Linked DNA regions of Homo sapiens: region 2 is reported to be linked to region 1. The links are microRNA targets in miRTarBase. Many come from high-throughput screens and were not tested one by one. Region 1 holds a microRNA gene; the other region holds the end of a gene's coding sequence.
What was found. The annotated mature microRNA hsa-miR-1207-3p reads UCAGCUGGCCCUCAUUUC and lies in region 1 at 1,925-1,942, opposite strand. An mRNA with a match to its seed (bases 2 to 7 or 8) in the 3' UTR can be bound and repressed. Matches are read on the target gene's strand: a 7mer-m8 pairs with bases 2 to 8, a 7mer-A1 pairs with bases 2 to 7 and ends in A, and an 8mer does both.

Region 2: miRTarBase lists FOSL1 as a target of hsa-miR-1207-3p. Seed matches in the 3' UTR shown: 7mer-m8 at 582-588.

What each region holds. Positions count from the first base shown.
Region 1 is chr8:128,044,028-128,051,144 of GRCh38, reverse strand. MIR1207 (microRNA 1207) reads right to left here and starts at 1,993; the gene lies at 1,907-1,993. The region is part of intron 6 of PVT1 (Pvt1 oncogene); the gene reads right to left. RefSeq lists cis regulatory regions at 1,602-1,854, 5,433-5,934, enhancers at 1,733-2,278, 798-2,914, 4,953-6,424 and a silencer at 2,467-2,650.
Region 2 is chr11:65,886,297-65,893,400 of GRCh38, reverse strand. It overlaps FOSL1 (FOS like 1, AP-1 transcription factor subunit), which reads left to right. Exons shown (of 4, transcript NM_005438.5): 4 at 105-1,352. The coding sequence ends at 515. FIBP (FGF1 intracellular binding protein) reads left to right here and starts at 4,930. Exons shown (of 10, transcript NM_004214.5): 1 at 4,930-5,067; 2 at 5,269-5,467; 3 at 5,675-5,801; 4 at 6,979-7,079. The coding sequence starts at 4,983. CCDC85B (coiled-coil domain containing 85B) reads right to left here and starts at 2,728. Exons shown (of 1, transcript NM_006848.3): 1 at 1,766-2,728. The coding sequence starts at 2,617. The coding sequence ends at 2,009. RefSeq lists enhancers at 1,068-1,227, 1,268-1,317, 4,960-5,029 and silencers at 2,458-2,937, 4,700-4,839.

The DNA of each region.
Region 1 (7,117 bases):
CATGTGCACTCAATCAATTTCGTTCAATGAAAGAACAAGTGACTCTCTTTCATTCTCTTGGAGTTGAATACTCAATCGTCCCATAAATGGTTCCAGTGCTCAAGCTGAGAATCTTACACCACAGTCAATGCCCTGAAGAAATTGAGACTGTGCTGGGAAGTCAGACACAAAAAGAAAGAGATGAGGTCCACTCTTGCTGTCATACATGAGGAACTAAGAGTCTTTCAAACAGAGGAAGATGACTTTGTGGCAGAAAAACCCACAGAGGAAGTGAATGATGGAATGGAACTTGAGGACAGGTGGAGTTTGAATAATCAGTGGGGTAGTCAATTAGAAGGTTAGGGAAAACCCCATTCATTTATCTGACAAGTCAAGCCCCAGTAGGAGCCTTTAGACAGGTTCTTCTCACAAGAACCCTGCAGGTAGGAACTATCAGCCCAGGTTAATGTCAAGGATACAGAGGCTTGGAGTGGTGAGGTGACATTCCTAGGGTCACAGAGCCAGCAACTGTTGGAGCTGAGGTCTGAACCCAGCACTCTCTGAAGCCAGAGCCCATGGATCTCTCAGGCATCCAAGGGAGAAAAAACAATGGGATCAAAGCACAGACGTCAAGGAAAGCAAGTAGTGTTTAAAAGACAAGAAGTGAGACCTGTTTACCAGAACTGATTCCCCACATAAGAGGCTCGGAGGCATTCAGTCTTTATTCACAGGCTGGAGTGATGTTGCGGTGGACTTAATGCCCCCTGAGAGGTCTGACTTCAAGCCTGTGGGTGACACGGAGCTACTGTTTTTGAGTTGGACAGGGACATGGTCAGAACTGTGCTTTCAGAATTTGGACTTGGCCACTGGAAGAAGAGACAGTTAAACTCAAGTTGCCCAACATGAGGCATGGGATGGGAGAGGTTGGGGAAGGGATGGAAGGAAACAGAGTGGGCACCAACAGGAAGGAAGCAAAGTCAGGAACTGCTGGCTGGAATGGGTCCAGGGAGAGGGAAAACCACTTCTCCTTCCTCTTCTTATGATTGCAAGATTAGTACTTGAGAATTAGGCTGCACAGGCCAGGACTTCCCAAAACTCAGGAGGGAAAGAGCCCAGAGCACGTGTCTCCAATGGAGGCTATAGTTCCAAATCACGTGATCATCGGTCATCTCCTTGCCCACCCTGAAGCCCTTGTCCCCAGTGTACTTTGGGCTCAGACAGTCCCTCAGGGGATACAGCAGTGTCCTTTCCTTCAGCATTCAGGGCAAATGAGAGGCAAAGAGATCAATGGAATGCAAAAGCGTTACTATAGATGAGAAGTCGGACGCACAGAGAGGTTCCACCACTTGCCTAATATCACACAGCAAGTACATGCCAGAATCAAAATTCAAACCTAGAGCCCCGGTGTAAACCTTACCTGAATCAGTCAGGGAGCAGCAGGGAGGCAGTGGAAGGATAGGCCCCCTGACCTCACTCCCCGCCTGCCTTCCCATCCTGCCAGTGCCTTCCAAACTGATACCAGAGAGCATGGCAGCCCTGTGTTGCATCCACCCTGATAATGCATCCACACAGGTCAGCCTTCTGGGCACAAAACAAGGCAGAGAAGAGCAAGGAGTGGACCTGGAGGGGCCCACGGAAGCTCCCCAGCACCCACCACTCCAATGGCCCAGCCCCTGGTAGGTCTCCAGTGCCCTTCACCCTACAGAGCCACAGAATCCCCAGACCTTGACGCTGCAGCTAGGGCCCGCCTGCCTCTCAAGAGAAGGGCAGGGCCCCACACAGGCAAGTGCTCTGCCTCCGCGCAAAGCTGGGCATGCGTCATCACACTCCCGCCTTCCTTCCTCATTCACTCTCCCTTGCCCTGCTTCTATCAGTGGCTCCAAGACGCAAACATCTCGAAATGACCTGCTTCTGTGTAGGTCAGCTAACAGAAGTGCTGTCTTAAGAAATGAGGGCCAGCTGATGCCCACTACCAGACCCAGCCAGCCCCTCCCAGCCTCCCTGCCAGCCCTGCACATGGAGGCCTGGCGGCCAGGAAAAAGAAAGGGCTCCTATCTCTGATTCCTCAGGGCCTCTGATAAGAAATGTCATCCCTTGCTGGGTAATATTACCAAGCCAGATAAAAATCTCTATCAAGCTTAAACATATGGCTGGCTGCAGAACACAGAGTCCAGTGGAGAAGGGTAATTTATTTGCTTAAGCTGAAAACCCTGGGCAGCCGAAAGAAGTGCCTGAATAAAAGAGTAAGAGCCAAATTATAACCTCTTCTGACTTGGCATGGGGATTTTTCCCTGGGAAGGATGAGACACCTGAGAACAACAGGGGGCTCTCCACACATTTCTCCTGACACAATAAGCGCTTTCGCCTTCCTCTTTCTTCAAAGGGCACTTTCACTTATGCTATCACATTTAATCCTCACTACAACCTCAAGAGAGGCATTTTTAGCTTCCTTTACAGATCAGGAAATTGAGATTCAGCAAGGTTAAGTAAAGTGGCCAAGGTCACACAGGCAGCCATGCTGGAGCGAGGACCCAAACCCCAGCAGGTCTGACTCACCATCAGATGGGGAAGCTGATCCCAGCTTCTGGGGAGGATCGGCTCATACATCCACTTAATCAGCGAAGTCAGATCTGCCCAACTTAACTGACAATGTCAGCTACACATTGTAATCTTGAAGGTCCATTTCAAGGCTCTCCCGTCTCCTTGTTTCTCTGTAGCCTAAAGGATAATGAGAAAGCCTTGCAGAGCACAGAAGCTCAAGGAAAAGGACGGGAGGCCAGGGATAGTACCCAGGAGAGCAGTGAGTGACCTCAGGGCTTAGATTCCAGCCTCATATGCTCAAGGAGTAGCAGGTAGAAGGAAACTGTGGAAAGAAAACTCCTCTCTCTGTTCATTCATTCATTCACAAATATTAGTGGAAAGCCTATTGTGTGCCTTCTCTAGCTTGGCCTTGGAGATACCAATGCAAATGGGCAGGCTAGGACCTGCCTTCATGGATCGTCTGTCTTCTAGAACTGACTTACAGGTCAGTAAAGAGGCAATAGCCACAGAGTGTGTTAAGTGTGTTTGTGAATGCAGAAGTTCACGTAACTGATCTGGGGTTGGTGGCTGTGCATTAGTGTGTAGCTGTTAGCATACTCCACACAGTGTTCTAGGCACTATTCTTTAAAAAGTCAGCATTGTTAAGGTTGACTTTGCTCTTTGGTAGTTAATATAGCTTCAAGATTGTTCCCAATTACTTCATATAGCCACTAATTTTTTTAGATTAATTTTTAATTCACAAATAAAAATTGTATATATTTATAATATATGATGTGAAGTTTTGAATGATGTATACATTGTGGAATGGCTAAGTTGAGTTAATTAACAGGTGCATCATCTCACATACTGATTTTTTTTTACTAATTTTTTAAACAGCTGTATTAGTGTTCCATTTTATCACAACTTAATCAACCAATCACTAACTAATGAGCATTTAAGCTGAGTCTCGTTTTTCTGTGTCAAACAATGTTGTAATGAAGATTCTCTTCTCATCATGCATGTGTTTCTGCATGAAAAGTTCTTAGGATTCGCCCAGTGTTTTTTAAGCTTGGCTTTTCCTGTGCTCTTCACTGCAGCAGTAGCAAGGTCTCAATAGCGTCCTTTACAAGATAATGGCTCCCACGCGCCCATCCTCTTCAGACCTGGTGGGGCTCTAGTAAAAGGGTTTTAGTTCTCTTTAGTGAGCAACTGCCACCATTTCCACAAAAGCACACAAGAAAACAAAAACGTTTCCATTCTGGTGGCCAAGAAACCACTCCTCTTATCCCTGCCTCCTCTGGCCCATGGTGACTTAGTTCAGAATCAAGCGGAACTTAGCAGCAAGACACCAACCTCTCTTCTCACAGGTCATTCCTAGAAAGTGTCAGCTTTCCTTTTCTTCTGGACTCTGAGAGATTCAAGAACACAGAAAGCCCAAGGCTAGCAAATCTCCACTGAAGCTCAGCATACATCAAAAACTAAAGCCTGGTGGAGAAGGCACAGCAAATGTCAACTGCACACTTGGGAGCCCAAAGTACCTTGGAGGAAGGCATCAGTCGTCCAACAGAACACCTTTGGATAGTCAAAAGATAAAGAGAGTATGACTCCATGGCTGGAACAAAGTAGAACCTCAGACAAGAGGACATCCTGTTCATGAGAGGTTGGCCATCCACTGAAGACACTGTGGGGGACCGTGAAGGCAGAGCAGACATGAGAAAGGCAGAGCCCCACTCCTTGGTCCCCTGGAGAAAACCAAAGAAAGGGCTGTAATCTACGTGATTAGAGATGGAGAAACTAAGAGCCTGGGGAACAAAGGAAAGGGCCTTACTCATTCTTCCTGGACAAGTTAGAGAAGAGGATATTTGAGTTAGATATTGAAGAGTGAACATTTAGAAGACAGAGAAAAGGGAGAGGACCTTCAGATGGTACTCACAGAGCAGTGTGGCATGGAGAGTGAAAGAATGTTCAGCCAGTGGCCAGACTGTAAAGGGTATTTCTCAGGTGCTGTGCTAAGGAGCTGGGCTTCTCCCTCCAGATGCGATGGGGGGCTGTGTAGGCTCCAGAGCAACAGAATGACAGATTAGAACTATGCTTCTCCATCACCATGGAGCACGAACTAGTGAGAGAAGACTCTCGGCCATGTGGGAACCAGTATCCTACAGTTCTAAGAACATTCCACAAGGCAACAGATGCAGTGGCTTAAACAGAGGCCTACGGAGCCAGGCTCCCGGACTTCAGATCCCAGCTCTGCCATTCCCAGGTTGAACAAGTTACTGACCGACCCCGTGGACAGTTTTCTCATTTGGAAAACGGGGATATCAGCAGAGGCCTCTTAGGGCCATTTTGTTGGTTGTGAGCTGGATGAGTTAATATAAGTAAAGTGCTTAGGACAGTGTCTGGCACACAGTAGGGGCACAACACAAGACAGCTGTTGGGATGGCTGCCATCTCTCTTGTCCCCTTGGTTTCCTCTTTCAGCATTGTCATTTCTTCTGAAAGGTGAGCAGCTATGAATCTGAGCAAGAGTGAGAAGGTTCGAGCTAACACTTGCTTAGGAGGGCTGGAACTACATCTGAAATAGTTTGGGGTCTGTAGCTTCTTGTTAGTCCCCAGAATCCCTATAACAGGGATGCTCTAAGACTGTGGTCCTCAAACTCCACTGCATAATAGAATCACCTGGGGAGATGTTATAAATCCAAATGCCCAGGTCCCATTTCAGACAAAATCAAAATCTTTGCAGCTGGGGTACTAGCAGCAGGATTTAAAAAATCCTCTAGGCAATTCCAAGCTTCAACCCAGTCTTAGAACAACTGATCTAAGAGTCAAATCCAACAGGAAAGGAAAACATGGCAGAGAGGAAAGCATCCCCATCCTTGAGCAGTGTCATCTGCAGAACTACTTCAGCTCATTATGAAGCCGCTCCTCATTACGCCTTACAGGGCAGCTCGGTTGTCACAAGGAGCTAACAGACTTGAAAGTTGCCCTGGATCACTGCTTTTGTAACACACCCTTCCAAAGTCTTCTGGAAGCAGGTAAGGGTAGAAAATACCAACAAATACAGCCATGTGGGTAACTCTTGTGGAAAAAGCATTGGGTTGCGTGCAGACAGCTGGTTCTGGCCCTAGGCTCTTTCACTAATACTACGTAACTTAAAAAGCATATAACACTTATGCATCAGTTTCTTCAGTAGTGAAATAAAGATAAGAACTGACTTACCCATTAGATAAGATGTTGTGGGGTACAAGCCAGAAGACATAGGTCAGCTGTGGCAAAGCATTTTTATTTAACATGTTTTCCAGGTCTTCAATGGAACATAAAAAGTTTAGGAGAGAGAAATGTCCCCTTAAACATTTTTTTTCAATGAGAGAAGGGAGGAGTCAAGGAGTAGAGTTGGTCGGCCACATGAAAGCTCCCTTCAGAGCAGGCTGCCGTGGTGCCTGCCCACAAGGGGTACAAGTGGGGCCAGTGATAGGGCAGGAGCTCAGGGTGTGTCCAAGGGCTGCCCCAGCAAAGACGTTAAGATAGGATATGTTATCTGGGAACAATGGAACAACTGTACCGTTGTCCTAAACCTGAATCTGACAAGAGGGGATAAGACTCCAGGAAGCATGTCCCCAAACCACTGGCCAGAGTGGCCCCAACAAACCACTGGTCCATTTGTTCATTCCTTTATCTACTTACTCATTCATGTACCTTACAGTAGTGTATGTCAACTACATATCAAGAATTGTATGGATGTACAAGATTGTAGGAATGCTGGAATGAATAAGGCTCACTCCGCACCCTCAGGAGGGACAAAGATAAGTAGGGCAAACAAGTGGTATTTAAGTACAACACAATGTGCTAAAGTATAATAAAATAACAAGTATAATAGTAAATAGCCACCACTCATTGATGGCCAACTATGCACAGGCACCATACTTGGTATTTTATATTGAACATCTCAAATCCTTGCTATCTCCTCAAGGTAAGGATCTTTCTGGGGGCAAAGATGGTTGTTATAAGCATTATTACCTTTATTTAACATTTACTGAGTCCTTACTGTGTTGCAGGCACTGTGCTGAGGTTTTGTTTGTTACCAGCAGGGAGGTAGTAATGATTTAGATTAGAGCATGGGCTCTGGGCCCAGATTTGCCTGTCAGTAGCTGGGTGATTTTGAGTAAGTTACTTTACATCTCTGTGCCTGAGGCTGGGTGTGGAGGTCATCTCCAAAATAGAGACTTATGCATTTAACAAATATTTAGTAGGCACTTACCATTTTCCAGGGAATAAAGCACTTAATAAAATTAACAGAAGTCTCTGCATTCCTGGGGTTCATGAGGGGTTGGGGGTGTCAGACTGTCAACAAACAAATAAACAAGTAACTATATGCTGGGTCAGATGATGATAGGTGCTATGGTGATCAATTAAGATAGAAAAAAAAAGGGGAGATGGAGGTGCGAGGTGGGTGCTGTCTGCATAGAGTGGCCAAGAAAGGCTTGTCCAATAAGATGTTTGGGGCTAGGTGCGGTGACTCATACCTGTAGTCTCAACACTTTGGGAGCCTGGGCAGCAGGATCACTTGAGACCAGGAGGTTGACACCAGCCTGAGCAACATAGTGAGACCCCTTCTCTACAAA
Region 2 (7,104 bases), not on the chromosome of region 1:
CTCCCCCCGCCCAACCCCAGCTCCTCAGAACCCTGAGTCCAAACGTCTGCGGCTCTGGGGTATTCAGCCCTCACCTTTCTGACTCCTCTCCTGATCTTCTACAGGAGACTGACAAACTGGAAGATGAGAAATCTGGGCTGCAGCGAGAGATTGAGGAGCTGCAGAAGCAGAAGGAGCGCCTAGAGCTGGTGCTGGAAGCCCACCGACCCATCTGCAAAATCCCGGAAGGAGCCAAGGAGGGGGACACAGGCAGTACCAGTGGCACCAGCAGCCCACCAGCCCCCTGCCGCCCTGTACCTTGTATCTCCCTTTCCCCAGGGCCTGTGCTTGAACCTGAGGCACTGCACACCCCCACACTCATGACCACACCCTCCCTAACTCCTTTCACCCCCAGCCTGGTCTTCACCTACCCCAGCACTCCTGAGCCTTGTGCCTCAGCTCATCGCAAGAGTAGCAGCAGCAGCGGAGACCCATCCTCTGACCCCCTTGGCTCTCCAACCCTCCTCGCTTTGTGAGGCGCCTGAGCCCTACTCCCTGCAGATGCCACCCTAGCCAATGTCTCCTCCCCTTCCCCCACCGGTCCAGCTGGCCTGGACAGTATCCCACATCCAACTCCAGCAACTTCTTCTCCATCCCTCTAATGAGACTGACCATATTGTGCTTCACAGTAGAGCCAGCTTGGGGCCACCAAAGCTGCCCACTGTTTCTCTTGAGCTGGCCTCTCTAGCACAATTTGCACTAAATCAGAGACAAAATATTTCCCATTTGTGCCAGAGGAATCCTGGCAGCCCAGAGACTTTGTAGATCCTTAGAGGTCCTCTGGAGCCCTAACCCCTTCCAGATCACTGCCACACTCTCCATCACCCTCTTCCTGTGATCCACCCAACCCTATCTCCTGACAGAAGGTGCCACTTTACCCACCTAGAACACTAACTCACCAGCCCCACTGCCAGCAGCAGCAGGTGATTGGACCAGGCCATTCTGCCGCCCCCTCCTGAACCGCACAGCTCAGGAGGCGCCCTTGGCTTCTGTGATGAGCTGATCTGCGGATCTCAGCTTTGAGAAGCCTTCAGCTCCAGGGAATCCAAGCCTCCACAGCGAGGGCAGCTGCTATTTATTTTCCTAAAGAGAGTATTTTTATACAAACCTACCAAAATGGAATAAAAGGCTTGAAGCTGTGGCCTGAGTGCCTCACTGGACCCAGAGGCCAATGGGAGAGTATTTGGAGCCCTAGGTCCCAGCCTTAGCTCTACAGACTCACTGCATGACCTTGGACAAATTCTTTGATATTTTTGGACTTTGTCTTATCTGACAAGTGGGGCTACATCCGCTCGGCCTCATCTCCGGGACTGAGGGGAGACAGTCCTCTGGGGTAAAAGCGAAGAGGCTTACCGCCCCTCTCCCCGTGGGGGCCCACAGTGCTGCTGCGTGTGCCACGGAGGGGCGCTGTTATGCCCCCTTCCAGCCTCAGAGGAGGCGGCCGAGTGGTTCTAGGCCCCCAGCACCTGCTTCCTGCCCCATTGTCTTGGACAGGAAGGAGCCGGGAAGGGAGCTGGAGCCACTTCAGGGGCTGGATTAAGGCCGGTCCCGGCGCCCGATGGGGGAAGTCTGGTTTACCACTGCCCCGCATCCCACCCCAGGCTCGAAGTAATGGGGGAATCATTAGTTCTGCAGTCCTTCTGGATGGGAATTGTACCCTGTATCAGCACCCCACCCTCGCCCCAACCCCGGCGAGTACCAAACAGACGCTGCCCAGGCCGTGGGCTCCGCTTCCGTCCGGGTTTATTACCCCCAATCCAACCCCCAGCAAGTCCCTCCGCTCCAGCCTTCAGTCCCCCTGCTGCCCTGCCAGCAAGAGCGAGGGGCCCTTCTTGGTGTCAGGATTTCTTAGTCCATGCCAGCGGCCCCTCCTGCGCAGCCAGGACGGCGTCCAGGTCCCGAGGTCCACAGCGGTCCCGGGGCTCGGGGAGCAATCCGGGCGGGCGTCGGCGTGGAGGAAGCAGTGCCTTCAATCATCGGGGGAACAGGCCAGGGGCAACTGATCCGGACTGCCCACGCTGCCAGTGCTGGAGCTTCCATCGCCTAGGTCGCGGGGCCCGCACGGGGGCAAGGCAAGCTCGGGTGCTGGCCCGGCTCCTGATCCCCCGGCGCCGCTGGGGCCGCCGCGGGGGCCCCATTCTTCGCCCAGCGCCAGGCAGAGCTCCTTAAGCGCTAGGTTCTCCCGCAGCAGCTCCTCCTGGCGGCCCTCCAGCTCGGCCAGCTTCTGCCAACAGCCGCCCAGGTCCTCGCGCACGGCCCGGGATGCTTGGGTCCCGAAGAGCTGCCACTGGCGTGCGGCGCGCCGCCCGCGCTGGCGCTCCGAGTCCAGGAAGCAGCAGAGGTCGCGCAGCTCACGGTTCTCTGCCTGCAGACGCCGGTTGAGCTGCTTGAGCTCGCGGATCTCGCCCAGGTGGCCCTGCAGCTGCCGATTCACCTCCTGCATGAGGCGGCCGCGCTGCACCAGTGCCGCCAGGCGCGCCGCCTCCTCCCGCCGCAGGCGCCGCACTAGCTCTTCCTTGCCTAGCGCCGCCATCTCCTCGTCCGTCAGCTCCTCCAGGCCGCCTGCCTCGGCCTCCATGGCTGGTCAGGCCTCTGGAGCATCGCCCGCCCGCCGCCGCGGCCCAGGAGCCCCACGTCGGGCCCGGCGCCACTCAGGCTCGGGCTCCGGCTCCGCACGCGGCAGGCAGTGGCCGAGGCAGCGTAGGCTGCAGCAGCTACCCGGGCTGGGCACGCGGCGGGGCGCGCGCCGGGGCGGGGCCGCATGTCGTTATGGAAGGACAGCCAATCCGGTGAAACGTCCCCGGAAAGGGGCGGGGCCTGAGCTCAGGGGCCGCCCCCCTCGTTCCCCACCCACTCCGGGTGTTACTGATCCTCGATGTCAAGGAACCCGCGCGTCATCGCCCTCCACATCGGTCTCAACCCGAAACTAGGAGCTTCGAACCTCCAAGTACCGGATCGCCCCAAGCTTGAGCCTAGGCCTCTCGGCTCTTCTGAGAAACAAGATTCAGGCGTCCGCCCCTGACTCCTGCCCATCCCCCACAGAAGTCAGATGGACCGCTCTCCAGTCCCTCTTTACCTTTGATCAAATTCGGAAGTCTCGGCCCACTAAGGATCGCTCCTGGTTCCTCGGAACCCTGAGTCCAAACGTCCTAGCTCACCAATAGACTACCCTCCCTCCCAGGGAGCGTTTCCTGCCTGGGGGGAGGAACATACAGGATTCGTTTGTTCAATAAACGTTTTTTATGTGCAAGGCCCATGCAGAAATAAATTTAACCAAAATACCGATTCCATCCTCAAGGAGGTCGCAGTCTGTCCGGGAAGTCAAGCTGTGTTAAGCAAGAAATAAATCCGGGAGGAGTATGGTCTGAGGGTCCTTAAGAGGGTTCCCAAAAGAGATGCTATCCAAGAGGCTCTGGTAGATCCATAGGACTTTGCCAAGTAAAGAGCTATTTCAGGGAGAGAGAATAACATAGTGAAAGACACTGGTGCCCGAAAGAGCCTAGCTGCTTTAGGAACAATGAGGATAGCTTGGTTTTTGAAAAGCAGATGTGTCGAGAAAATGCTAAGAGAGAGAGAGCGAGGCTTCAAAGGTAGGTAAAAGCCAGATTCTTAAGAACTTCCAGTACCAGGTTGGAGCATTTCCAAAGGCCACTAAGGATGTTAAGCAAGAGAGTAACATTTGTAAGGATGTTAAGCAAGGGAGTAACATTTTAAAATATGCCTTTAACTGGCCAAGATGGTGAAACCCCGTTTCTACTAAAAATACAAAAATTAGCCGGGCGTGGTGGGAGGAGCCTGTAATCTCAGCTACTCGGGAGGCTGAGGCAGAGAACTGCTTGAACCCGGGAGGCGGAGGTTGCAGTGAGCCGAGATCGCGCCACTGCACTCCAGCCTGGGCGACAGAGCGAGACGCTGTCTCGAAAAAAAAAATGTATTTAAAAAGATTGGGCTGATCTGTGTGGGCCGGACCCTGCGGGGAGGGGACATAAACAGGGAGATTAGTAACGGTGTCAAAGAGCAAGAGCAAGGAGAGCTAAGCAGAAAGACGGCTGGGGCAGCATCAGTGGGGGTGGAGAGGACAAACAGATACTAGAAATATTCGGGAGGCAAATCAGCCGAACTGAATGTGGGGAGAGAGGAGTCTGGAAGAACGCCCAGGTTTCTCGTATGAGAACTGGTGGATGTTAGGGCTGTCACTGAGATAGGGACGCAGGAAAGAAACAAATGGGGAGAGGCAGAGGTCTGTCTAGAATATGTTGAGCTTTTGAGGGGCTTACGGGAAGAGTGTGGATAGACTTGGCCGATAGGCGGCCCCTCCGGATGTGGACTTCCAGGCAGAGCTCGGAGGGGCAGAATTAGAGACGTCAGTAGCTCGTGGGGCTGGGGGTGGGATTAAAACCAAGGTGGGAGCAGGTGCCCCAAACCCAGGAGAGGTGCTCATGCGCAGGATGGACAAACCAGTCTCCAGCAAGAGCCCGAGGAAGTCGGGTCATACCCCATTTTTGCGGAGATTTAGGATAGAGCCCTGTGAAACCCCTAAGTTTAGGATACAGGTCAAACTTAGGAGGTCCCGAAGAGGGCAGAGAAGGTGGGAGAAAAGCCAGGAGGAAGTGAGGGGAGAAGTTACGGGGACCGAGGAGACGAAGAGGAGGCACTCCCTTCGTGCTCCTGCAGACGGCCGGGGAGGGAGACAGGACGCAGGAGCCCGGGACTCCCCCTCCCGGCGGGAGGAAGCGGTGCTCCTCCGCGCAGGCCTCCCCCTCTCTTCCCTCGCCGCTCCCGCCCCGTCCCCTCCCCGACTGGCTGTGTCCCGGAAGTGGTCATAAGCTGGGTCCCGATGCCGCGAGCGGAATCTCGGCGCTCCCGGAAGTGGCCTGAAGGCGGCGCGCCAGTCCCGAGCAGTGCTCGCTCCTGCTCGGGGCGCTGCGGCCCCGGGCGTCGCCATGACCAGTGAGCTGGACATCTTCGTGGGGAACACGACCCTTATCGACGAGGACGTGTATCGCCTCTGGCTCGATGGTTACTCGGGTCCGTGAGGGGCGTGTGGGGAAGCCAGTCGGCGGAGCGGTTGTGTTGAATGGGAGAGGGGGCGGGGCTAAGACTTGGGCATCCTTTAGGGAAGTGGGCGAGCGCCTGGGAATAAGAGGTGTTATAGGGGTCTGGGATGGAAACCCTTAAGGGCCTCTGGCGTCGGCGGGGCGGGGCCTGATGCTAGCGTCCGCTTTCCAGTGACCGACGCGGTGGCCCTGCGGGTGCGCTCGGGAATCCTGGAGCAGACTGGCGCCACGGCAGCGGTGCTGCAGAGCGACACCATGGACCATTACCGCACCTTCCACATGCTCGAGCGGCTGCTGCATGCGCCGCCCAAGCTACTGCACCAGCTCATCTTCCAGATTCCGCCCTCCCGGCAGGCACTACTCATCGAGAGGTGCTCACCCTCTGGGATGGTGGAGACATCAACCAGTCTGACTGTATACCCATTTTGCCGGCTGAAACAGGCCCAGGGAGGGATGGGATTTACCCAGCCATCAGAAAGTTGAGAGTGGAAGGGGTCAGACCTAGGCCCTGCTAGGCCCCGCCAGACTCCCTTTCCTGTCTTTTATGGAGGGTCAATGGTGTTCTCTGACTCCACAAGGTACTATGCCTTTGATGAGGCCTTTGTTCGGGAGGTGCTGGGCAAGAAGCTGTCCAAAGGCACCAAGAAAGACCTGGATGACATCAGCACCAAAACAGGCATCACCCTCAAGAGCTGCCGGAGACAGGTATGCACTGCATCCACACGGACACAGCATCCCATCTACACTTCACTCCCTCCCTTTGGCCACTGGCCCAGTTCCAGCCTCTGATTGTGGCAGCAGCTTCATACCTAGTCTTCTCCTCCCTTCCCCTTTCCCCTCCTTTTTTTTTTTTTTTTTCGAGATGGAGTCTTGCTCTGTGGCCCAAGCTGGAGTGCAGTGGCGCGACCTCAGCTCACTGCAACCTCCGCCTCCTGGGTTCAGGTAATTCTTGTGCCTCAGCCTCTGCAGTAGCTGAGATTACAGGCGCCCGCTCCCACACCCAGCTAATTTTTGTATTGTTAGTAGAGACAGGGTTTCACCATGTTGGCCAGGCTTGTCTTGAACTCCTGGCCTCAAGTGATCATCCGCCTCGGCCTCCCAAAGTGCTGACATTACAGGCGTGAGCCACCGTGCCTGGCTCCCTGTTGTGCCTTCCAAGCTATCCTGTACTGTATGGCCAGAGTGACCTTTCAGAATGACCTGAAATTTTATCAGACCCCTGATAAACTTTCATTGGCTCCCACTGCCTCCTGGGTAGCAGCTGCACTCCTTGGCTTTGACCTATGGACTGTCCTGTTATCTCATCCCTGCAGACCTCTCTAGGCTTACATTTCTCCAGCCCCAGGCTTTCCTTTACTCATGTTGCTTCTACCTGGAGGGTACTGTTCTTGGCAATATCTACCCCTTGAAATCCAAGACAAGAGGTGAGATGCCACCTTCTCCACAAGCCTTTTTGGTACGCCAGGAAGAAGTAACCCTTCTGGGTCTTTGATGCCTTTCTTTTGTATCTCCTGTGAGCTTTCTGTTTATAGCTTAGCATTTGTTTTTTATTTTTTAGTTTCTAGGGCTTAGCCAGGAAAGTCTCTTCCAACTCAAACTTGTGAAGATCTGGAGAGCATGGTGCTAAAATGGGGTTGGATTTAGAGATAAGATTGAGTAAACATTTATCCAAGGCAAGATACAGCAGGAGTTGCTAAGCATTTGATTTGATAACAAGTACTAATAACTAATAGTTGGTTGAAGGAATAACAAATGCTAAATCAGCATCTGCTGACTGGATAGGTGGATGGGGAAGGGAGAGATGTTCAATAAGTGGTTTATTGGGTGAGCGACACAGTGTACACTCTGACCAGTCCTCTCTTCTACCCTAACTGCCCTGCAGTTTGACAACTTTAAACGGGTCTTCAAGGTGGTAGAGGAAATGCGGGGCTCCCTGGTGGACAATATTCAGCAACACTTCCTCCTCTCTGACCGGTTGGCCAGGTGAGGAGCTAGCCACCTCCCCATC